Linked DNA regions of Homo sapiens: all the other regions are linked to region 3. The links come from fine-mapping of genetic effects on gene expression. A gene starts in region 3. Each other region holds a variant in brackets. All regions are shown on one strand. Distances are from middle to middle. Region 1 overlaps RBM34 (RNA binding motif protein 34). Region 2 has its middle 13 kb from the start of TBCE. Region 3 holds the start of TOMM20 (translocase of outer mitochondrial membrane 20). Region 4 overlaps ARID4B (AT-rich interaction domain 4B). Region 5 has its middle 25 kb from the start of LINC01348.

Region 1 (5,103 bases), 25 kb after region 3:
GCCTACATCCTGTCATTAAAGATATTAATACATAAGTACAACATAAGGCAATAAAGTACAGGAATAATGCAGAGGAAAAAATATCACTTAATGATATAAAGTATCGGAAAAGCTTTGAAGAAGGGACATTTTTAGCCACATACTGAAAAATACTTTCATAGGCAAAAATGGTACTTTAAGGAAGGATTCCAGGCAAAACAAATGGACTGGCAAAGGGACAAAGGTGAGAAAACCCACGTGTAGAGGAACACAGGAGAGGCAGGGCCACACTGGAGAACTGCCAAGCTAAGAATTAAGGATGTATTTCACTGACAGAATAATTAACACAATGTACAGGTGCTGGTAACCCAAGAAGAAGTAAGACAGAGTATTTGTAACCACAGCTTACAGTCTGGTGGAGGAGGCAAACGACAATTTCAGTAGAGTGTACTAAGTACTGTAATGAGGGATGGGTGCTGTCAAATGCATAGCAGGGACACACTGGTAGCCTAGAGACTGGGGAGAATCAAGGTAGGCTCCCCAAAGGGGAGAAGGCAATAGCAGGCCCCGTGAGGGGTGTGTGTGTGGCGGCTGGGGGGATGGGGGGAAGGGCGTTTCATTAATGCAAGGCAGGGAAAGAGGTAAGGGTTCCGGGAAGAAGAGCTTCAGGAAGACTGAGTTCACAGTGTTTTGTTGGACAAATTAGAGGAAGACTGAAGGTAAGGAACTACAATAGGCCTCTGCGACTATTCTGACAGGAGGTAATGAGAACTTAGGTAGGACAAGGAAAAAAGAAAGGAATGACTCATATTAGGAAGAAATCACAGTTGAAAAACGGACAGGAGTGGCAAACACTAGCATGGGTGAGCCAATGAAGAGTCAAAGGCAACCACAAAACCTGCAGCCTGGGTGCCACTAAATACCACAGAAAAATCAGTAGGCAGCATAGGGTTGGGGTGAGAATGGATGGAAGTAAGCAGATATATTGAAATCAGGGTCTGGCAAGACACCCACACTAATGCATCAGCCAAAGGTCTAATACAGGGAAATGGAACTCAGAAGGGCAGACAAAAGATATGTGATAAGAGTGGGAAATAAATACCCTGACAGAAATTATGGGCACTGTCAAAGCTTTGGGTAACGTCTACTTCTATAGAAGTGGGCAGTTGTGCCTCCTCTAACATTTGGCAATTCCTGAAGATATTTTCCATTGTGAAAACTGAGGTGCAGGAGGTGCTACCAGCATCTAGTGGGTAAAGACCATGGATGTTACTAAACATCCTATAATACAAAGGGCAGCCTCCAACAACAAAGAATTATCCAGCCCAAAATGTCAACTGTATGGAGGTTGAGAAACTCTATTCCAGAGAATCACATGAGAAAGAGCAATTAGAAACATGAAAAAGGCTAAGTGCAGTGACTCACACCTGTAATCCCAGCACTTTGGGAGGCTGAGGCAGGCGAATCACCTGAGGTCACGAGTTTGAGACCAGTCTGGATAACATGGTGAAACCCTGTCCGGACTAAAAATACAAAAATTAGCCGGGCATGGTAGCGCACACCTGTAATCCCAGCTACTTGGGAGGCTGAGGCATGAGAATTGCTTGAACCCAGGAGGCGAAGGGTGCAGTGAGCTGAGATCGCACCACTGCACTCCAGCCTGGGTGAGACACAGCGAGACTCTGTCTCAAAAAAAAAAATAGAATAAACATTTCCTATATTCTAATATACATTAATTATGTAATAGTGCCCAAAAATGTACACTATGGTACGTCAACTAACTATGCCTATGCAGTTAAAAAAAAAAATCATGTATGGGAAAACCAAATATAAATGATACTTATTTCCTGCTCCAAAGAATGTGGCTATAACTGGTTCAGAGTGCTGAGCTGGTAAAATCCAACTCACTTCTATAAAGTTTTAATATTAAATTGACATAAATTCTTTATCTGTCTGTGCTCAGAGAACAAAGACTGTTTGCAGCAATCATACCCACCTCCCATACTAATG[T/C]GTATGATGGGACATAGGAAGAGAATGCCTAGGATTCCAGCAATGATAATCAGTATTAACTTTTCAGTCTATTCTGCTGACACAGTAAATAAGTCACCCATCCACCCTCCAAAGTACATTGCAGGCTTTCATAGCAAGAGTATCATTTTATTAAGTAAACTCAATACATTATTTAAAAAGTTCAAGAGTCAGCAGTAGATAGTAAGAGCAACTCTTTTCTTGGGTTAAATTTGAACCTATTGATTCAAAAGGTTAAAGTGCTTCACCATCTCACTAACAGCAATAAGTTCATCTGATTTAAATGCAATAAATTTTAATATTATGTAATTTTACGGGGGAATGAAACATACCAGAGAACGAAATCGTACAGATTCTATTTGTCCATACTCTTTAAAAAACGACTTCAGCTTCTAAAATTAAAAAAAAAAATACACATTAGCTGACCTTCAGAACATCAAATAAGTGCTACAAAAAGGAATTAAGAAAAATTGTCTGATAATCCTCTACTGCCAGGCTTTTTTTTTTTTTTTTGAGACAGAGTCTTGCACTTTCGCCCAGGCTGGAGTGCAGTGGTGTGATCTCAGCTCACTGCAACCTCCGCCCCCACGGCTTCAAGTGATTCTCATACCTCAGCCTCCCAAGTAGCTGGGATTACAGGCGCCCGCCACCATGCTCAGCTAATTTTCGTATTTTTAGTAGAGACGGGGTTTCGCCATGTTGGCCAGTCTGGTCTCAAACTCCTGACCTCAGGTGATGCAACCACATCAGCCTCTTCAAGTGCTGGGATTACAGGCATGAGCCACCGCACCCGGCCTACTGCCAGTTTTTAAGAACATTTCAGGAAAGTAGGTGACTATTCAGTTGGATGAACAAAAAAATTTTACTGAAACTTGTGAGACTCTGTCTCAAAAAAAAAAAAAGAAAACACAATTCAAGCTCCTATTAGTATCCATCGGATGTATGCTTTTCTTTCAATCTTTTATAACCTTTATCACATGTAAATTAAGGATAGACTTATAACTTCCATAGATTCTCTCATGTTTTCACATTGGTTTAAACCAGGAATAAACTTTTTTTTTTTTTTTTGAGACAGAGTCTCACTCACTGTCACCCAGGCTGGAGTGCGGTGGCACGATCTTGGCTTCTGCAACCTCCCCCTCCTGGGTTCAAGCAATTCTCCTGCCTTAGCCTTCAAAGTAGCTGGGATTACAGGCATGTGTCACCACACCCAGCTAATTTTTGGGACTTTTAGTAGAGAAGCGGTTTCACCATGTTGGCCAAGCTGGTCTCGAACTCCCGACCTCAGGGGATCCGCCCGCCTTGGCCTTCCAGAGTGCTGGGATTACAGGTGTGGGCCACCACGCCTGGCCTCAAAAAGGTTTTTCTACTGTTTTTAATCAAGTAGAGTTTAAACTGTCCTTCAAAATATGAGCAGGATACCGAGCTAAGGATTGCAACAGTTACTATCACATGAACATGCAGAAGCAAAGGGCAGGTTTTGCTTCAGTGATCGTCACACAACGGAAGAAACTCAGGACATCTTCATTCTTTAAACAACACATATTTACTATGCACAAGGCACCATTTCAGGTGTCAAGAGACAGAACGAGGCTGGGTGCGGTTGCTCATGCCTGTAATCCCAGCACTTTGGGAGGCCGAGGCGGACGGATCACAAGGTCAGGAAATCGAGACCATCCTGGCTAGCACAGTGAAACCCCGTCTCTACTAAAAATACAAAAAATTAGCTGGGCGTGGTGGCGGGCGCTTGTAGTCCCAGCTACTCAGGAGGCTGAGGCAGGAGAAGGGTGTGAACCCAGGAGGCGGAGCTTGCAGTGAACAGAGATCGCGCCACTGCACTCCAGCCTGGGCAACAGAGCGAGACTCTGTCTCAAAAAAAAAAAAAGAGAGAGAGAGACAGAATGATGAAAAAAGAGGATCAGGCCCAGTGGCTCATGCTTGAAGTCCCAGCACCTTGGGAGGCTAAGGAGGGCAGATCACTTAAGCCCAGGAGTTTGAGACCAGCCTGGGCAACATAGTCACAAAAAAAAAAACACAAAAATTAGCCAGGCACGGTGGCGTGCGCCTGTAGTCCCAGCTACTCAGGAGGCTGAGGCAGTAAGATCACTTGAGTCCAGGAGTTTGAGGCTGCAGTGAGCAATGATCATGCCACTACACTCCAGCCTAGGTGACAGTGAGAACCTGTCCTGAAAAAGAAAAGAAAAAGGAAAGACATCTTTAAACATATGGAGCTTACTTTCTAGTGGCATATAACAGGAGACAAGGCTGAAAGAAAGAAACCAGGCAGGAGGTCACTGCAATATTCAAATATAATCTGCAAAAGCCTGAATTGGCAGGGACTACAGGAATGAAAAGGAGGGGGTGGATACTGGAATCCATTCATATTAGGATGATTTATGTAATAATTTACAATGAAGTTATATCCATGACTTACTATTGAATGCTTATTCAACACAGGAAGAACAAAGTTATTAACTTCTCTGAACTTTTACCATATACAAACTCACCTTCTTATTACATGTAACAGGCAAATTCCCAACAAACACAGTTCTCTCATTCTTTAATCTCTCTTCTTCTTGGTTGATTTGAATTTTCTTTCTTTGACTGACAACTGTGTCTTCTGTGTCATCAAGTATTTTTCTATCTGCTACTTTAACACCAGGTTGAGAATTTTTCCTTTTCTGCCCTTGTTTCTGGTGAATTTCTTCTTCTAAATCAGCACTCGCTAGAGCGCTTTCCCTTTTTAAGGCAAAAAATAAAATAAGCAGTAAGAGTCATGCCAGTTAGGTCTAGTATTTGACAAAGCACAGCCCTACCCTCCCGACTAGAAATATTTCCCAATGTCTTCTGAATTTTCCTAGATTTACTACTCACAAATATATCAAAATTTTTAGAGCAGCGCTATCTAGAAACTGACTAGTATCTTTAGAAAAAAAATGATTTAACTCAAGATTTAGAAAAAGTTAAGCTCTTTTTTTTTTTCTTTGAGACAGGGTCTTGCTCTGTCACCCAGGCTGGAGTGTAGCAGCGTAATCACAGCTCACTGCAGCCTCAACCTCCCAGGCTCAGGCAATCCTCCCACCTCAGCCTCCCAAG
Region 2 (5,103 bases), 230 kb after region 3:
GCCTTTGGTTAACTAATGGCCTTTCAAAGGCTATGACTGACTTAATACAAGGTCTTTTTGTTATGCCTTACAGACCAATTGCACTCTGCTGGTGAGACGCTGACTTCATAGTAAGGCAGCTGGAAAACATCTCTTTAACATGGATTCATGGCAGGATTTTTCCAATTCAAATAATGTACCATGTCCTTTAAAAGAAAAACAATACTCTTGGACCTCTACTGTTGACCTAGTTTTTTTTGTTTTACTAAATATATACTTAATATATAAAAGGTATACTTAATGCATAAAAAGGCATGAACTCTGTAGGTGCTATTAATACCCTTGTTTATTGGCTATTCTCCCATCCTAATTCTTCCTAATCACAGTTTAATTTCCTTTTGGTGAATTACCTCTCCCCAGTTGGGCACAGCCAAAGTAACCCATACAGAAGCCAAGGGGTATCAGGACATTGTTATATCTTTCCTCTCAGTGACCTGTACAGTCAAAGGTTGGATACATGACCTAATCTTGGCCAGTTGGACTGTCTCCAAGGAGATTCTTGAGTGGAGAAAACGCTTCACTTATCTGGCAGCATATGTTGGCCAAATGGTACCTGTTGCTGTGGTTCTTTGTCTCAGTTCTTTGTCTTGAACCTGAACCCGGTTCTCCTGCCCTCCTATTGTACTCTGAACTATCTAAAATCCTACTAATAAGTTAGTCAGGCTGGGCGCAGAGGCTCAAGCCTATAATCCCAGCACTTTGGGAGGCTGAGGCAGGCAGATCACCTGAGGTCGGGAGTTCAAGACCAGTCTGACCAACATGGAGAAACCCTGTCTCTACTAAAAATACAAAATTAGCCAGATATGGTGGCGCATGCCTATAATCCCAGCTACTCGGGAGGCTAGGGCAGGAGAATCACTTGAACCTGGGAGGGGGAGGTTGCAGTGAGCTGAGATCATGCCACTGCACTCCAGCCTGGGCGACAAGAGCAAAACTCTGTCTCAAATAAATAAATAAATAAATAAATAATAAGTTAGCCAGATCTCCCAGCTACATGAAGACAAAAAGAAAGCAAAAGATTCTATAAGAGATTATATAGTAAGTTACTATTTGTGAAAAAAAAAAATAAGGCCAGAAGCGGTGGCTCACGCCTGTAATCCCAGCACTTTGGGAGGCCAAGGTGGGCAAATCACCAGGTCAGGAGTTTGAGACCAGCCTGGCCAACGTGGTGAAACCCCATCTCTACTAAAAATACAAAAAAATAGCCGGGCATGGTGGCGCGCGCCTGTAGTCCCAGCTACTTGGGAGGCTGAGGCAGCAGAATTGCTTGAACCCGGGAGGCAGAGGTTGCAGTGAGCCAAGATTGCACCACTGCACTCCAGCCTGAGAAACAGACCAAGACACTGTCTCAAAAAAAACAAAACAAACAAACAAAAAAAACAAAAGAAAGAAAGAAAGAAGGAAGGAAGGAAGGAAGGAAAAAGCCGGGCATGGTGGCTTACGCCTGTAATCCCAGCAATTTGGGAGGCCAAGGCGGGCAGATCACGAGGTCAGGAGTTCGAGACCAGCCTGACCAATATGGTGAAACCATGTCTCTACTAAAAATACAAAAATTAGCCAGGCGTGATGGCTAACACCTGTAATCCCAGCTACTCAGGAGGCTGAGGGAGGAGAATTGCTTGAACCCAGGAGGCAGAGGTTGCAGTGAGCTGAGAATGTGCCACTGCACTCCAGCCTGGGAGACAGAGTAAGATTCCGTCTCAAAAAAAAAAGAAAAATATTTGCACAAAATATCTAGGGGTAGGACCTGGGAGACAGAGGACTAGGAGGTGGGAGGAGCAAGAGAGACTTCTCACTGTATACCTATTTATTACTTTTCATTTTTTGGAAGCATGTGAACATGTCATCTATTCAAATATTGAAATTTAAAAAATAAAGGCACCAGTAAATGAGAAAACCAACAATAAATGCTAAGCAGATAATTTCAAGAGTGGCTACTTACATTGGGTATCCGGGGAAGACCTCTGAGGGAGTAGCATTTAAGCTGAGCTCTGAATGATAAGAAATTAGCTATACCACAATCCTAGTAAAGAACATTTGAAACCAAAGGAATAGCCAACAAAGGTCATAAGGTGGGAAAGAATGGTGCCAATATGTACAAAGCAACATAGGTATTAGATTGTGTAGGAATTTGTAAATCATAGAAAGGACTTTAGGTTGGGTTTTTTTTTTTTTTTTTTTTTTTTTTTTTTTTTTTTGAGATGAAGTCTCGCTCTTGTCCCCCAGGCTGGAGTGCAGTGGCGCGATCTCGGCTCACTGCGACCTCTGCCTCCCGGGTTCAAGCGATTCTCCTGCCTCAGCCTCCCGAGTAGCTGGGATTACAGGCACCTGCCACCACACCCGGCTACTTTTTATATTTTTAGTAGAGACGGGTTTTCACTATATTGGCTAGGCTGGTCTCAAACTCCTGACCCCAGGTGATCCACCTCCCTCGGCCTCCCGAAGCGCTGGGATTACAGGCATGAGCCACTGCGCCCAGCCAGACTTTAGGTTTTAAAACTAACTGCAACTTGAAGCCGATGGATGGTTTTAAGAAAATGAGTAAGGCCAGGTGCCGTGGCTCACGCCTGTAATCCCAGCACTTTGGGAGGCCAAGGTGGGTGGACCACCTGAGGTCATGAGTTTGACACCTGAGGTCATGAGTTC[G/A]AGACCAGCATGACCAACATAGTGAAACCTCATCCCTACTAAAAATACAAAATTAGCTGGCCGTGGTAGCACATGCCTGTAATCCCAGAAACTTGGGAGGCTGAGGCAGGAGAATCACTTGAACCCAGGAGGCAGAGGTTGCAGTGAGGGAAGATTGTGCCATTGCACTCCAGCCTGGGCAATAAGAGTGAAACTCCATCTCAAAAAAGAAAAAAAAAAAGAAGAAGGGGAGTAAAGGCCAGGCGCAGTGGCTCACACCTGTAATTCCAGCACTTTGGGAGGCTGAGGCAGGCGGATCATGAGGTCAGGAGTTCGAGACCAGCCTGGCTAACATGGTGAAACCCTGTCTCTACTAAAAATACAAAAAATTATCCAGGTGTGGTGGTGTGCGCCTGTAATCCCAGCTACTCGGGAGGCTGAGGCAGGAGAATTGCTTGAACCCAGGAGGCGGAAGTTGCAGTGAGCTAAGATTGCGCCATTGTACTCCAGCCTGGGTGACAGAGCAAGACTCTGTCAAAAAAAAAAAAAAAAAAAGAAAGAAAGAAAGAAAAGAAGAGAGAAAAGAAAAGAAAAAAGAAGGGGAGTAACTAGATCTGAATTACCTTTATAAAAGATCATCCTGGCATCTGAGTGGATGATGGACTACAGAGAGTCAGAAGAGGAGGTAAGGAAACCAATTAGGAGGGTGTTTGAGTGTCCAGTGAGAGATGGTGGTAGCAGAGAACATGGTATGAAGTAGTTGAATTGGGGATTATTTAGAAAGTGGAGTTTATATGAATTACTGGTGGATAGGATGTAGAGTTAATGGAAAGAGGAGTCAAGGATGGTCTTTAGATTTTTTATAAGAAACTGAGTAGATGGTGATAAATCATAAATCAGACTTAGGAAGACAGGGAAAGGGTAGGTATTAGGGGGAAATTAGAGCTGCCTATCAAGCATCCAGGAGGAAATGTCACTGCATGCACAGGCTAGATTCAGGGGAGATTCAAGCAAGGCTGAAGTTAGATTTGTGGATCATTGGTGATCACTTAAGCCCAGGATTGGATAGGTTACCTAGAGATATTGTGTAAGAAAGAAAAGAAGGGGCCTCAGCACTGATCCTGGCATGCCACGTATAGGAGTATTTTTTTCTTTTCTTTTTTGAGATGGAGTTTCGCTCTTGTTGCCCAGGCTGGATTGCAATGGCACGATCTCAGCTCACCACAACCACCGCCTCCCGGGTTCAAGCAATTCTCCTGCCTCAGACTCCTGAGTAGCTGGGATTACAGGCATGTGCCACCATGCCCGGCTAATTTTTTGTATTTTTAGTAGAGACAGGGTTTCTCCATGTTATCAGGCTGGTCTCGAACTCCTGACCTCAGGTGATCCACCGGCCTCAGCCTCCGAAAGTGCTGGGAATACAGGCGTGAGACCCTGCGCCCAGGTTTTCTTTTTTTTTTTGAAACAGCTTTGCCAAGGCAAGATGGCTCCCATGCTGGTAATTCCAGCACTTTGGGATGCCAAAGAGGGAAGGATAGCTTGAGCCCAGGAGTTCAAGACCAGACCGGGCAACATAGTGAGACCTTGTCTCTAAATAAATAAATAAAAGCCAGGCATAATGATGCACACCTGTGGTCCCAGCTACTTGAAGGCCAAAGCGGGAAGATTGCTTGAGGTCAGGAGATGGAGACCACCCTGGGCAATATAGTGAGACCTTGTCTCTACAAAAAAAATTTAAAAATTAGCCAAGCGTGATGGCAAGTGCCTATAGTCCCAGCTACTCGGGAGGCTGAGGTGGAAAGATTGCTTGAGCCCAGGAGGTTGACGTTGCAGTGAGCCAAAATTACAACACTGCATTCCAGCCTGGGCAACAGGGCAAGACACTGGCTCCAGAAAAAAAAAAAAAAAAAAAAAAGGTTGGATCTGCTGGCTCACACTTGTAATCCCAGCATTTTGGGAGGCCGAGGCGGGTAGATCACCTGAGGTCAGGAGTTTGAGACCAAAAAATAATAATAATGATAAATAAATAAATAAATAAAAGAAAAAAACAGACAAACAAAGAGTTCAAGACTAGCCTGGCCAACATGGTGACATGGTAAAACCCTGTCTCTACTAAAAATACAAAAGTTAGCCAGGGGCTGGGCACAGTAGCTCATGCCTGTAATTCTAGCACTTTGAGAGGCTGAGGTGGGTGAACCACTTGAGGTCAGGAGTTTGAGACCAGCCTGGCCAACATGGTGAAACCCCACCTCTACTAAAAATACAAAAATTAGTCAGGTGTGGTGGTGCATGCCTGTAGTCCCAGCTATTTGGGAGGCTGAGGCAGGGGAATTACTTGAACCCAGGAGGTGGAGGTTACAGTGAGCCAAGATCGAGCCACTGCACCCCAGCCTGGGCTACGGAGCGAGACTCCATCTCAAAAAAAAAAAAAAAAAGTTA
Region 3 (5,086 bases):
GGCTGGAGTGCAGTGGCGCCATCTCGGCTCACTGCAACCTCAGCATCCCAGGTTCAAGCGATCTTCCTACCTCAGTCTCCCAAGTAGCTGGGACTACAGGTGCGTGCCACCACGCCCAGCTAATTTTTTTTTTTTTGTATTTTTAGTAGAGACGGGGTTTCACCATGTTGACCAGGCTGGTCTCGATCTCCTGACCTCATGATCTTCCCACCTTGGCCTCCCAAAGTGCTGGGATTACAGGCGTGAGTCACTGCGCCTGGTCGATAGATTAGATTAGATAGATAGATAGATAGATAAAGATAGATAGATATAGATATAAATATATATAAAGACACACACACACACACACGTATATTTTGGAGACAGAGTCTTGCTCTGTCCCCCCAGGATGGAGTGCAGTGGTGCAGTCTCTGCTCACTGCAACCTCCACCTTCCACATTCCAGCAATTCTGCCTCAGCCTCCCAAGCAGCTGGGACTACCGGCGTGCACCACCACACCCGGCTAATTTTTGTATTTTTAGCAGAGTGGGGGTTTCACCATGCTGGCCAGGCTGCTTGAACTCCTGACATGAGGTGATCCGCCCACCTCGGCCTCCCAAAGTGCTGAGATTACTAGCGTTGAGCCACCACACCCAGCCTCAATTACCTGTGAACAGACTGCAAGATTATTCTAAATAAATTTTACAAAAACATCAAACAACAAAATATTTCTACTCATAAAAATATCTCATCCGGACGCGGTGGCTCACGCCTGTAATCCCAGCACTTTGGGAGGCTGAGACGGGCAGATCATGAAGTCAGGAGTTCGAGACCAACCTGGCCAATATGGTGAAACCCTGTCTCTACTAAAAATACAAAAATTAGCCTGGCATGGTGGTGTGCGCCTGTAATCCCAGCTACTCAGGAGGCTGAGGCAGAATTGCTTGAACCCGGGAGGCGGAGGTTGCAATGATCCGAGATCACCCCACTGCACTCGAGCCTGGGCGACAGAGCGAGACTCAAACAAACAAACAACAACAACAAAAAATCTCTAGCATTCATCAATTACCATGTGTGAGGAACAGGACTAAAACTCTACACTATACCATTTTACAAAAAGGGAAAACTAAAGCTTGAAGTTACTTGCCTAAAGTTACTGCTGCAGCTAAGTAATTCACTGTAATCATTAGGTTGCCGCTAAATCCAGAAAAAACAATTTTAGATTGAAAATGATGGAGAAGTTATTTTGAAATAACATTCCTCCATTTGTCTAAAATGATAGCTCTTGTTTCTGCAACAGGACTTCAGGGTTTCCAACGGAAGATAGGGTTAATCCATTCTTTATAACTCTGCATTTGTACCAAAGCCCCCAGCTGTCACCCATTTTGGCAACTACAGGACAATAACCCGAAGGCAGAATGACCACCAGCATTTATGGAGGAGCATTTCCTATGTCAGAAAACGTGGAAGGCAATTCAAACATCTCAACCTTCACAAGATCAACAAGAGGTAGGTGGCATTACCTGATTTTACAACTACAGAAATTAGGATTCAGAAACCCCAAATTATGCCGCTAACCTGGCCCTAGAAATTCAAGGTCTGAATGTAAAACAGTATTCTATTAGTCTGCCTAGTCATAAATCAAATTATGTCTATATCCCTTCCCTCCTAAAACATAAGAAAGCTGGAACTAGATGTCTGATTCTTAGTGCTAGTAAGATCAGCGCTGCAGTCACTGCTCACACAGGGCTACTGAACACTTGAAATGACTTAGTATAGCTGAATTAAACCGTAACCACTGTTACTTAAGTAAACAATAATCCCTTCTTTGTACCCCTTGGGCTTTAGTAACTTACGTATCAATTTTAATTCCAAAAACTAATTTGGCTGAACAACCAAGATAAGCCAAAAAATATTTCTTATTGCAACAAATTTGCTCTTCAATGATGCGAATGAAGATTCTCCGAAAATTCAAGGTGGATCACAACGGTTTTCATGACACGATTCCCCTCTGGTAGACCTCTCTTAAAAGATGTCGCAGGTATGAAATAAGACTGAGCCACGGGAGAAGCGCAGCCCTTTGGACTCCCCTGCAATTTCTATAGCATTCACTCATATCTTGGAAGCACTTAGAACGAAGCTACCAAGAGGGTTTAAGAATGCAGCAATGAGCCAGGCGGATCATCTGAGGTCAGGAGTTCGAGACTAGCCTGACCAACACGGTGAAACCCCGTCTCTACTAAACACAAAAAATCACCGGGCGTGGTGACGCCCGACTGTAATCCCAGCTACTGGGGAGACTGAGGCAGGAGAAGCGCTTGAACTCGGGAGGCGGAGGTTGCAGTGAGCCGAGATCGCGCCACTGCACTACAGCCTGGGCGACAGAGCGAGATTCCGTCTCAAAAAAAAGAATGCAACAATGATACTGCACTGAGCATGCGGATTTAGCCTCAGACTAAAATTTGCGACAAAAATGCACGACTTTTTAGTTAAGAGTAGAGGTTTAAAAAGATGAACGACAAAAAAAGAGACAACCTCCTCCCCAGGCCACACACACCCGAGATTGCAACAGAAATCAAGAGTGCATTTGCACGGCTAAAGTGTCTGGGGAAAACAAAACGGGAAAAATCCTTCCTCCAAAATGGAATTCCTACGGGGCACTAGAGCCCCCGGAGCGGCGCAGCCAGCGCCATCGCCTATTGAGGGCCGCACCACGCGGTCGCCCTGCGCGGCCCACAGGCTGGTGGGAGGCAATGACCCCTCCTGTGAAGGGCGGCGGCCGAAGGCAGCAAGCCTGGCCAGGGGAGAGAGGACCCACTCACGTTCTCGAAGCCTGTTCTTGAAGTTGGGGTCACTTCGTCTTTTGCGGTCGAAGTAGATGCAGTACCCAATGAAAAGGGCCCCGCATACACCGGCGGCGATGGCGCTGTTCCGACCCACCATCTTCTCTACAACGCTGAGCGTGGACGGTGGCGGCAGGGACCGCGAAGGAGCGGTGGGCCACGAACCCTCAGAGCGGTCGGCGCAGCTCACACCCGACGGCCGCGGGCCAGGAACACAGAAAGGCCGAGCACACGCCACTTCCGGTCCCAGTCAACTAAGGGCCTCGAGGTCGTCCGCGGCAGAGCCTGAGCAGAGGCCCAGAGCGCGGCTCCTGCGCCTGCGCAGTGGGCGAAGCCGGCGTTTCCCCTGCGCCGCTGGGTGTACGCACTGGAGTCGGGAATTTGCACGTGACCACGGACTTTTTTTCATATCCGCCGACCATGCTGTAACGAGGCGTACGCGTTACTGGCGTGCACGTACTCAGAAGACTAGCTGACAGCCTTGTTTGTGGCAGACAGAGATGCAGGGTCCCAGACTGCGAATGCTTCATCTTGTCTAACACAGGCAGCCTGTGACTTGTTTGAATTAAACTGTACTTTCTTTTCAGGTTGCCACAATCCATTGTGCGTAGTGGTTCCATTTCAAAAGAATGTTACAGGATAGCCTCATTTTATGATAACTGGAATAAAATTAAATGGAGTAATTTCTTGAAAAATATACACAATTGAAGAAAAAATAGAAAACGTGAATTGTTTTATAGCCACACGAAAACATACACATGATCAGGCCAGGCGCGGTGGCTCACGCCTGTAATCTCAACACTTTGGGAGGCCGAGGCAGGCGGATCACTTAAGGCCAGGAGTTTGAGACCAGCCTGGCCAACATAGTGAAACCCTGTCTCTACTAAAAATACAAAAATTAGCTGGCCATGGTGGCCGGGGCCTGTAATCCCAGCTACTCTGGAGGCTGAGGCGGGAGAATCGCTTGAACCAGGAGGCAGAGGTTGCAGTGAGCCAAGATCGAGCCACTGCACTCCAGCCTGAGTGACAGATCAGGAGTCCGTCTCAAAAAAACAAAATATATATATATATGATCTAACTTAAGATATTGACAAGGAAAATCGTGGGCAGAAAGCAGGCATTAAACAGACACTGTAAGTTGAGGGGTATCGAAGTCAAGCATCAGTGTCAAGAGACATTGGAACCAGAGCTACCTTACCTTGAATAGGGGCTGGGTAAAATGAGGCTGAGACCTATTGGGGCACATTCCCAGGAAGTTTGGCATTCTTGGTCACAGGATATTTACAGGGAAGGGAACAAGTTAATAATGTTTACCTAACAGACCCAGGAAATGTCCTGATGTCCTGATATCTTAAGAACAAAAGCATTCTTAGTTTAATTTTCCCTTTAAAGATAATATTGATCCTTGCAGAAGACAGTAGTTACACAGGATTAACAGTCCTTTGACAAAGACCAGGCAGTGTCTCACACCTGTAATCCCAGCACTTTGGGAGGCCCAGATGGGCGGATAGCTTGAGCCCAAGAGTTCAACACCAGCCTGGGCAACATGGTGAGACCCTGTCTCCACAAAAAAATTAAAAACTTAGCCAGGCGTGGTGGCACACACCTGTGGTCCCAACTACATGGGGAATGATGCGGAAGTATCCCTTAATCCCAGGAGGTTGAGGCTGCAGTTGAGTTATGATTGTACCACTGCAGTCCAAACTGGGTGACAGGGTAAGACCTCGTCTCAAAACAAACACACAAAAAATCCTTTGTCACAAGCTCTTGGAGTAGAGCTCATCTTCCTCATTTTTTTGCTGTTCAATACAAACAAGCCTTGTACCTAAGGTGGACATGTTCCTTCTCTTGCTTTAGGGTATGCACCATTCTACAAAGTAACCTTTCACTTTTTTTTTTTTTTTTTTTTTTTTTTGAGACAGTCTTGCTGTCACCCAGGCTGGAGTGCAGTGGCATGATCTTGGCTCACTATAACCTCCACCTCCTGGGTTCAAGCGATTCTCCTGCCTCAGCCTCCCCAGTAGCTCGGATTACAGGCATGTGCCACCACACCCAGCAAATTTTTGTATTTTTAGTAGAGATGGGGTTTCACCATGTTGGCCAGGCTAGTCTCAAACTCCTGACATCTGGTGATCCACCCACCTCGGCCTCCCGAAGTGCTGGGATTACAGGCATGAGCCACCGTGAGTGATCTTCTTTATTTTCTTAATAAACTTGTTTTCACTTTACTCTGTGGACTGGCCCCAAATTCTTTCTTAGGCAAG
Region 4 (5,103 bases), 110 kb after region 3:
GGGACTACTAAGTTTTAGGTGGCTAAAAGACATCCAAATGAAGACAGTGAACAGAAAAATCAGGTCTGGAGCAAAGCGTAGAGGTCTGGACTCAAGGATATAAATTTGAGAGCCCACAGCCTAAATATTAGGGGTCTAAAACTTGGGGCTTGTGAGCCAAATCCACTCATTACTTTTCCCTGATGAGCGAAGGATTTCGAAAACTGCACATGTGATAGCTTTGGCCAGTGATGACACTGGTGTATGAGTAAGTGGGCTCACTGTCCAGTTCTGCCACAGAACGACAATATGCATTTTATCCCATTCACCCATGTATGTTATTTTCTTGGTCACTTTATCTCTTTGCTATCTCTGCAAGGTGAAGCTTTAAAAGGAGATGAGATCACCGTAAAGAAAATACAGCGATACATTCTGAATCCTGAATTACAGCTTGAAAGGGTGATTAGAAGAGGAGAACCTGGTGAAAAAAACTGAAAAGGAGAACTGCATGAGCCATGGAATCTAAGATTTCCCCCTCTTAAAATGAAATTGGAAAATAAAAAATTGAGACTGAGAGTAAGTCTCAATTAGGATTAAACAATACTACTTATATTAATAAGCTCAGCACAGTCCTAGTCAGGGTAAATACTCAGTGCATGGTAGTTATTTATAGTTCCTGGGACTATGTAGTTGTTTCCTTTTTCTTTTTCTTTTTTTTTTTTTGAGACAAGGTCTCACTCTGTGCAGTGGCGTGATCACGACTCAATGCAGCCTCAACCTCCCAGGGTTCAATCGATCCTCCCACCTCAGTCTCCCAAGTAGCTGGGACTACAGGCACAGGCCACCCAGACCCAGTTAACTGTTTTCTTATGATGTTACTAAAACACTTTGAATTTACTCGATTTATAAAAATAACATAAATTAGAAACACAAATACTATTTGTGCGATTATATCAAGATTGGTCGATTTAGAACATAATTTTTCACTCTAGTTACCAAAAACTATCCATCACCGTCCAATGGATCTCAATTTTGGGAGGAGATAACATACATCAATAATTCTAAGAATTTAAAAACAACAGTGAAATGGCTGACTAAACAGATTACTAACCTTTCAATATTAAAAATCCTTAGATTTTTCATTTTCGTCAAAGAAACTTTTTAGTGATTATGGTGTGAGAAGCTTAAATTAATAACTCAAAACACTAATATTAAAAAATTTAATGTTCCTATTGAGAAAAAGACTTACAAAACAGTTGTGTGTGTGTGTGTGTGTGTGTGTGTGTGTGTGTGTTTGAGATGGGGTCTTGCTCTGTCACTCAGGCTGGAGTGCTGTGGCACGGTCTCAGCTCACTGCAACCTCCACCTCCCGTGTTCAAGCAATTCTCCTGCCTCAGCCTCCCAAGTAGCTGGGATTATAGGCTCCCGCCACCATGCTCGGCTAATTTTTGTATTTTAGTAAAGATAGGGTTTCACCATGTTGGCCAGGCTGGTCTTGAACTCCTGACCTCAAGTGATCTGCCCACCTCGGCCTCCCAAAGTGCTGGGATTACAGGTGTGAGCCGCCGCGCCTGGCCCACAAAACGGTTTTATAAAAAATATATATATATATATATATATATATATATTTTTTTTTTTTTTTTTTTTTTTTTTTGAGATAAAAGTCTTGCTCTGTCACCCAGGCTGGAATGCAGTGGTGTGATCTCAGATCACTGCAGCCTCCGCCTCCCAGGTTCAAGCGATTCTCCTGCCTCAGCCTCCCGAGTAGCTGGGACTATAAGCACGCACCACCATGTCCTGCAAATTTTTCCATTTTTAGTACAGAAGGGGTTTCACTATGTTGGCCAGGCTGGTCTTGAACTCCTGACCTCAGGTGATCCGCCTGCCTCGGCCTCCCAAAGTGCTGGGACTGCAGGTGTGAGCCACTGCAGCTGGCCTTAAAACATACTTTCAAAAGAAACTCACAAAGACTCCTAGTGCTTTAGAAAGAAAGAAAGAATCGCAAACACTGATGCTTTTTTTCAGCTTAATAATTAACCCAAAGTGTGGCAACTAACTTAACCCTGCTAATACTCAGTTTCCTTATCTCTACATCGGGATAAATAATAATACCTATCTCATAATAGGTGTTAGCACACTCCTTGTACATATAGGTATCCACTAAATGTTGGATACACAGGAAGGTACAAAGGTATTATAAAATATTTATATTTATTAAAACAAATAATTGTCCTCATTTTTCACTATCATTACAAGAGCTGACATTTACTGCATATTTAATTTGTGCCGAACACTGAACTAAGCAGTGGAGATAAAGAAATAAGACATGTTGACTAAAAAGGGTAAATGGACATCACAAGTAGAAAACAGTAAAAACAAAGGTAGTTCTATTGTTTCTTTTTCATTTGAGACCATGGTTACCTAGTTTAGCACAAAAACCACAAATATACAAAAGAGTTTATATATATTATGGACATAAGTTTTCATACAAATACATATAAACAAAGGACAGTGTTTTAATCCCATTTCTAAGTCTCTGCAATTGTTAGTCAATGAGCAGGAAAATGAGAGAATGAGAATAAAGAGTTAGCAGATTCTCAAGCACAAATTGTAGAGAAAAGTTTATTAATCATCACCGGGTGTGCTGGCTCATGCCTGTAATCCCAACATTTTGGGAGGCTGAGGCGGGCAGATCACCTGAGGTCAGGAGTTGGAGACCAGCCTGACCGACATGGAGAAACGCTGTCTCTACTAAAAATACAAAATTAGCCGGGCATGGTGGCTTGTCATACCAGCTACTCGGGAGGCTGAGGCAGGAGGATCACTTGAACCTGGGAGGCGGAGTTGCAGTGAGCCGAGATCGCACCATTGCACTCCAGCCTGGGCAACA[A/G]GGGCGAAACTCCATCTCAAAAAAAAAAAAAAGAAAAGAAAAGAAAAGAAAAAAGGAAAGTTTATTAATCATGAGAACAAAAAACCTCTACACCACTAAATGAGTCTATCTTTGTTAAATATTTTGAACAGAACTTGGTATATGATAAATGCATACCTAACAAATATGTGTTAATCTTGAGAACACAAAAATTTTATTGAATGTCATTAACATAAGGGAAAAAAGCATTAGAGGAGAATTTGGCTAATTATTTTTAGTAAGGGAGTGAGAACATACAAAACAGAGACAGAGAATAATTTTGACCCATTCTGTCTCTCGATATTTGAGAACAAATTAGTTGTCAAACGTGAGAATAGTACTTTCAAAGTGTCTTTTGTTTATCAGCGGATCTTCAGTTTATAGCTTATTAAATATGAAGTGAGGGGAGGACATATTTGTAAAAGATGTGGGCTGGGCTCAGTAGCCCCCACCTGTAATCCCAGCACTCTGGGAAGCCAAGGTGGGAAGGTCACTTGAATCCAGGAGTTTAAGACTAGCCTGGGCAGCATAGGGAGACCTCGTATTTACAAAGTATTTAAAAATTAGCCAGATGTGGTGGTCTCCACCTGTAGTGTGAGCTACTCAGGAGGCTGAGGTGGGAGAATTGTTGAGCCCAGGAGGTCAAGGCTGCAGCGAGTCAGGATCACACCACTGCACTCTAACCTGGGTAACGGAGTAAGCCTCTGTCTCCGGGGAAAAAAAAAAAAAGTGGATCTCACTGTTTGATGCAAATGACTCAATGGTCTTCAGATAAAATCATCATAGGACAATTCAGACATATCAAAATTTTAAAGAGTTCAAGATAATTCTTTTTTTTTCTTCTTTTTTTTTTTTTTGAGAGGGAATCTTGCTCTGTCGCCCACACTGGAGTGCAGTGGCGCGATCTTGGCTCACTGCAACCTCCGCCTCCTGGGTTCAAGCTATTCTCCTGCCTAGCTGGGATTACAGGCATGTGCCACCACAGCCAGCTAATTTTTTTGTATTTTTAGTAGAGACGGGGTTTTGCCCTGTTGGCCAGGCTGGTCTCGAACTCCTGACCTCAGGGGATTTGCCCACCTCGGCCTCCCAAAGTGCTAGGATTACAGGTGTGAGCCACCACACCCCAGCCAAGATAATTCTTAAGAGATACTGATTATTAACTTCAGTCTCCTACTTGAAATTTAAAACCTTAAGTGATTTATCCAATTATATGCTGTCCAGAAAAAAATGCATTCTTATTGCCACAGAGTTAAATCTTCATTAAAGTATCATATATAGCTAATTATTAGTTGAACCTCTATTTGCTTTAAGAGCTACAAATTATTTTGTCTACCAAAAGATTATTTGAAAAGCAGCCTAGTTATGTCCGTGAAAGATATTAGTATATGTTCCCTTTCTAAAAGTCAAAGAAAATGGTCTATACATGGCCCTTTCAACTTGCTAAAGAAGCTAGTGGTTACGAAAAACAGAGAGATAAAAAGCTCAAAAGGCTTTCTGTCATGTCTTAACAGTTTGAAATACAAGAACTTGGGACAATCATGAGGATACTCCTGATAATAAATCTTGAGTACCTCCTCAGAATCACAAAAAGGCAACGTGAGAAAACAAGGAAAAAATGCAAAATATTCAACCTGGAATCTAAGGAATTGCAATCTTTTGGAGAGAAAAACATTAAAAAGTAGGTAGAATTAACAATCTACTGTAGAGAAAATTGAAGAGTGGGGTAATGTATAATTGCAGTCATGATTATATAGGGAGTACCTAAAAGGCAAGATTAAGATCAAGGATGGAAACACCCTGATTCACTAAGTATGAGGAAAAGGTCTAGTTATCCCTGTCAACCAAGAAAGATTCTGTTGTTCTTTTGCAATCTAGACCTACATGGACTTAGGAGCTTTAAAAGTTTGCATCATGAATTTTCTACCGAGAGAGAGAGAATTCAACTTCCACATAGCTAAACCTCTAAGATTATCAAGATTTTGCCTTTCCTGAATGACATCAAGAGTTCTTTGTATTCAAAGACAACGTTGAAAGTAAGCTTAGTGTGAACTAAATAATGCTAAAAACATTTCCTCATTTTGTACCTATGAAAAACATTAGTAAGAAAATTGTTTTCTTCATAAACTTATAAAGTTTGAAATTAAACTCTTGTATACTGAAGCTACTCACCAATGCAGGAAACCACAGTGCTTTCTTTTTATCCAAACTAATGTAAT
Region 5 (5,103 bases), 33 kb before region 3:
CCTCACTTCTCCTGTTAATGACCTCAACCCTCTGAGCCAATTGCCACATCCGTGTGAAACAAGAACACCACCTAGAAAGGTTTAGAAGGGTTAGAGGTGACTGCCCGGGCGCGGTGGCTCACGCCTGTAATCCTAGCACTTTGGGAGGCCGCGGCGGGCAGATCACCTGAGGTCGGGAGTTCAAGACCAGTCTGACCAACATGGAGAAACCCCATCTCTACTAAAAATACAAAATTAGCCGGGCATGGTGGCACATGCCTGTAATCCCAGCTACTCAGGAGGCTGAGGCAGGAGAATCACTTGAACCCGCGAGGCGGAGGTTGCAGTGAGCCGAGATTGTGCCACAGCACTCCAGCCTGGGCAACAAGAGTGAAACTCTGTCTCAAAAAAAAAAAAAAAAAAAAAAAAAAAAAGGTTAGAGGGTTAGAGGTGACTTAAGTAACAGCACTCAGCATCTAGCACACAGTAGGCCCGGAGTGATCATTACTACTGGCTTACAGTGGCTTCGCCAGCACAGTCAGCCTCATGGGAAGGAGCACCCAAGTCTCAGGGCCACTCCCTGAGCACGTGTGAACTCAGCGGGATCCTTGCTGACTGGAGTCCCATGGGGAAGCATGACGGGGAGCCGGGAAGCGCTGGTCGTCCGAACGGGGCGGGAGCCTGGACAACAGGGGTACGAGGACCCAAAGCCTTCCCCTTGTTTCCTCCTCATCAATTCTCAGCAGAGTGAGGGGTGAGGAGTTAGGCCCTAGGGAGCAGGAAACAAGCAGGGATCCGGCCACACACCCACCTTCACCTTGATCCCCGGCGGGACGTCCCCACCCCTTCCCAGCAAGGCAGCCCTCAGGAGCTGCAGCCCAAGTGTCTCGCCTGGAGCTTCCAAGTGCAGAGCCTGATTTTTGAAGAACCACTGCCACACTCTGGCAAATGCAAGGAAGTCATTCTCGGTGCTGTGGCCTGGGGACCATCACGAACTGTCCTAGAGCGCAATCCGAATGCAAGCAGGGGAGAGGAGGCCCCAGCAGGCTGGATGCTGCTACGGGGAGTGACGGTCACCCCTGTGTGTCCAGAGCCCACTCCACGCCTGGAACGCAGTAAACACTGCATCGACAGTGGCCCTCCCCGCAGTCCCCCTTGCTCACCCCCTTAGCTCCTGAGCTCTTTATCATGCTTTCCGCGTGGCCCTGCTCTCACCTGACTGTAATCTGCATTTATTCCCTGTCTCCAGCTGATCTGTGAGTTCCACAAAGGGGAGAAGCCACCTGCTGGGCGGTCTTGCATCTGTGGCAATGCCTTGTGCATAAACAAACCTTCGCTAAATGTTTGTTGAGCGAACAGAAGAGCGAATGATGCACACGAATATGGAGGTCTACTAATATGTGCTTAAGGAATTAAACCGGTGATGATAGAGATGAAAGAGGCGGGTAGGTCATCGCAGTGCCTGCGGTAGGCACTAGATGGCGCCCAAGCACACCAAGAAGGCGCTGAGAGGCGGGCCGAGCAGCATGAGTTTTTGGTATAGGGGTTTCCTGGAAGATTGAAGCAGTTTATCTATGAGGGCCCCTTGACTGAAAGTCTAAGATCTGGTACAAATAAGCCAGGATCAGCGGGACATGCTGTATTACAGTTCTCCAGGGAAACAAAACCAACAGGATGTGTGTAGAGAGAGGAAGAGTTTCACGTTGAGGAATGGGCTCGTGATTGTGGAGGCTGGCAGGTCCTAAACCCAAGGCGTGGGCCAGCACAGTCCAGACCCAGGAGAGCGGAAGGTGCAGAGAAGTCCCAGGGCGTTCTGCCGGATAACTTCCCTCGCTTGGGAAGGCCAGTCTTTTTGTTCTACTTAGATCTTCAACTGATTGGATGAGACCCACCGACATTAGAGAGGGCCTCTGCTTTACTCAGAGTTTACCAATATGTTTTGGGATTTTTTTAAATATAAAATGAGATCCTGCTATGTTGCTCAGGCT[A/G]GAGTGCAGTGGCACAATCATAGTTCAATGCAGCCTCAAACTCTTGGCCCCAAGCAATCCTCCCACTTCAGCCTCCCAAGTAGCTAGGATTACAGGTGTGCACCACCATGCCTGGCTGTAATGTTGATCTCATACAAAAACACCCTCCCAGTTGACACATAAAGTTAACTATCACACACACAGCTTGAGCTGTTGTTCCAGAGAAGCCGTGATCTTTTTTATTGTTTGTTTGTTTTTTGGAGATGGAGTCTCACTCTGTCGTCCAGGCGGCGCTCAGCTCACTGCATCCTCTGCCTCCTGGATTCAAGCAATTCTCCTGCCTCAGCCTCCCGAGTAGCTGGGACTACAGGCACACGCCACCGTGCCCAGCTAATTTTTTATATTTTAGTAGAGACGGGGTTTCACCCTGTTGTCTAGGCTGGTCTCGAACTCCTGAGCTCAGGCAACCTGCCCGCCTCGGCCTCCCAAAGTGCTGGGATTACAGGCGTGAGCCACCGTGCCCGGCAGCCGTGATCCTGCATGGAGACCAACATCCTCCATCTCTCCCTCTTGCCTTCTCCCAAGAGCCCCATAATAAGTGCGAAGTGCTGGAGCAGAGACCTGTTTCCTCCCAGAGAAATCCAAAGGTTCATGGATCAGAATGTTTTGGTTTTTTGTTTTTGTTTTTGTTTGAGACGGAGTCTCACTCTGTCGCCCAGGCTGGAGTGCAGTGGCGCGATCTCGGCTCACTGCAAGCTCCTCCTCCCAGGTTCAAGCCATTCTCCTGCCTCAGCCTCCCCAGTAGCTGGGACTACAGGGGCCCGCCACCACGCCCGGCTAATGTTTTCTTTGTTGTTGTTGTTTTTGTTTGTTTTTTTTTTTGTATTTTTAGTACAGATGGGGTTTCACCGTGTTAGCCAGGGTGGTCTTGATCTCCTGACCTCGTGATCCGCCCGCCTCGGCCTCCCAAAGTGCTGGGATTACAGGCGTGAGCCACCGCGCCCAGCCAGATCAGAATGTTTTTTCCACGTGTGGCCAGGCACGGTGGCTCACGCCTGTAATCTCAGCACTTTGGGAGGCGGAGGCGGGCAGATGACCTGAGGTCAGGAGTTCGAGACCACCCTGACCAACGTGGTGAAACTCGTCTCTACTAAAAATACAAAAATTAGCTGGGTGTGGTAGTGGGCACCTGTAATCCTAGCTACTCGGGAGGCTGAGGCAGGAGAATCGCTTGAACCAGGGAGGCGGAAGCTGCAGTGAGCCGAGATCGCACCTCTGCACTCCTCCAGCCTGGGAGACAGAGTGAGACTCCATCTCAAAAAACAAACAAAAAAGAATGTTTTCCCACACACGACCCCACAAGGCAATGCAGAGAATACTACCCAGGACATGGTTCTAGGTTCAACTTCTGAGGACACTCTCCCAACCTGTTTTATAGATGCTCTTTGTAGAATTTTTGTCAGTGTTTAAAAATTAGCTTAGCCCTAAAGGTCTATGAATTGATGGTAAGTAATTTAATTGGAGATGAGTATGTGAGGAGACAAAGGAAGAAACGTTACCCTCTCCACTGAGCACAGCTAATACCGCAGATAGGAAAGAGCTTTCAGCATATTCACTGATTGGAGTCGTGTTTACATTCCTGTTGTCAACTGGAAATATTTGCTTGTTTAAAGGAAGCTTCCTGAGTGTCATCTAATTGTTAAATCTCTGTTCTGAGGGAAAGTTCTAGGTGTAGACCCACACCGCACAGTTCGTAAGTGACCATGTGCTAAGGCAAGGCACAAACTCGCCTTAGCTGCTAAATTATTTTCTTTCACCATAAAACTGCAAACAGTACTGCAAACAAATCTGCAAACAGTACTGCAAACAAATCTGCAAACAGTACTACTATCAGCAAAATCATCCATTATTTTTCCATGTTAGTATTTTTTAAGCCACTATTCTCAGAAACAAAACAAAACCTTTATTTGTGTTTAGACATCATCAGTTAGCATCATAAAAACCTTTGATTAAAGCAAAATTAGGCCATTGGTAATAGACTCACAAAAACCATTGGGGAAAAAACTGCTTCATCCTTTGAGCTACTCTCTACTTTGCAATCCAGTTTTTTAAATAAGGTTTCTAAATACACAACATGAGTAGTGACCTGCTGGTGTTTCTAGCTTGGAAGAAAGCCATGGAAGCCTGTCCCTTGGTCCACTTAGGAGAGAAGAGAGAGACAAGGCAGCCGAAAGAAAGTTCTCCAAAGTGGAGGTGCCCTTCTACAATGCTAGACAGCCCGAGCATACTCTTCACTCTTTTTGTTTGTTTTTGTTTTCGTTTTTGTTTGAGACACAGTCTCGCTCTTGACACCCAGGCTGGAGTGCAGTGATGCGATCTGGGCTCACTGCAACCTCCACTTCCCAAGTTCAAGCTATTCTCCTGCCTCAGCCTCTTGAGCAGCTGGGACTACAGGCGCCCGCCACCATGCCCAGCTAATTTATGTATTTTTAGTAGAGATGGGGGTTTCACCATGTTGGCCAGGCTGGTCTCGAACTCCTGACTTCAGGTGATCCACCCGCCTCAGCCTCTCGAAGTGCTGGGATTACAGTACAGGCATGAGCCACCGCGCCTGGTTTGTTTTTTTTCTTTCAGATTTTATGGCTTTATTTAAACACAAATAATATGTACACATGGCTGCCCATTCATTTTCTTGGCGGGGCAGCCCAGCATTGGGATTGCTGACTCTGACGGCAGCTGGGCTGCTCTTCCCGAAACAGCGTTGCGGTTCTTGGTTCTTGGAGGAGGCACGGCGAGCGGTCCCTGCACAGTCAGATTCACTGCCCATCAGCAGCACTTCCAGTTTCTTGATGTAGTGGACCAGGAACTGGTCTAACTGGTGCCAGATGAAGTTTTTGATCCTCTTTTGGATGCTCTTGGGCTCCATGAGGGGTCTGAGGGAGCCATCATTCAGAGTAGGAGATAAATGTCACCTCCGTAGACAGAACCAAGGAAAGGGTTTTTTTTGTTTTCTGGGGGTTTGTTGTTGTTTTTTGAGGCGGGATCCCATTTTGTTGCCCAGGTTATGCAATCATAGCTCACTGTAACCTCAAACTGGCGGGCTCAAGCCATCCTCCTGCTCGTCTCTCCAGTAGCTGGGACTACAGGCACATGCCAT

Evidence for each region. PIP is the estimated chance that this variant, and not a neighbour inherited with it, causes the effect. A credible set is the group of variants that fine-mapping cannot tell apart.
Region 1: its variant is the best candidate, but not a certain one, in a credible set for the expression of TOMM20 in esophagus muscle (GTEx, PIP 0.77).
Region 2: its variant is the best candidate, but not a certain one, in a credible set for the expression of TOMM20 in nasal epithelium (TOPMed, PIP 0.53).
Region 4: its variant is the best candidate, but not a certain one, in a credible set for the expression of TOMM20 in whole blood (TOPMed, PIP 0.68).
Region 5: its variant is the best candidate, but not a certain one, in a credible set for the expression of TOMM20 in tibial nerve (GTEx, PIP 0.69).

Annotation. Positions count from the first base shown.
Region 1 is chr1:235,150,367-235,155,469 of GRCh38, forward strand. RBM34 (RNA binding motif protein 34) reads right to left here. Exons shown (of 11, transcript NM_015014.4): 4 at 4,515-4,746; 5 at 2,340-2,399. Among named protein-coding and RNA genes, the nearest start is that of RBM34, 8.3 kb to the right of the region's middle. The variant T/C (reference allele first, on the strand shown) is at 1,990.
Region 2 is chr1:235,351,580-235,356,682 of GRCh38, forward strand. No RefSeq gene overlaps it. Among named protein-coding and RNA genes, the nearest start is that of TBCE, 13 kb to the right of the region's middle. The variant G/A (reference allele first, on the strand shown) is at 2,686.
Region 3 is chr1:235,125,794-235,130,879 of GRCh38, forward strand. It overlaps TOMM20 (translocase of outer mitochondrial membrane 20), which reads right to left and starts at 3,044. Exons shown (of 5, transcript NM_014765.3): 1 at 2,802-3,044. The coding sequence starts at 2,922. SNORA14B (small nucleolar RNA, H/ACA box 14B) reads right to left here and starts at 2,144; the gene lies at 2,010-2,144. It overlaps LOC105379283 (a long non-coding RNA gene), which reads right to left and starts at 2,408. Exons shown (of 2, transcript XR_949295.4): 1 at 1,836-2,408; 2 at 1,126-1,176. RefSeq lists enhancers at 2,772-2,991, 3,222-3,321.
Region 4 is chr1:235,235,257-235,240,359 of GRCh38, forward strand. ARID4B (AT-rich interaction domain 4B) reads right to left here. Exons shown (of 24, transcript NM_016374.6): 8 at 5,057-5,103. Among named protein-coding and RNA genes, the nearest start is that of MIR4753, 48 kb to the left of the region's middle. The variant A/G (reference allele first, on the strand shown) is at 2,870.
Region 5 is chr1:235,092,556-235,097,658 of GRCh38, forward strand. No RefSeq gene overlaps it. Among named protein-coding and RNA genes, the nearest start is that of LINC01348, 25 kb to the left of the region's middle. RefSeq lists enhancers at 777-1,360, 1,326-1,485. The variant A/G (reference allele first, on the strand shown) is at 1,968.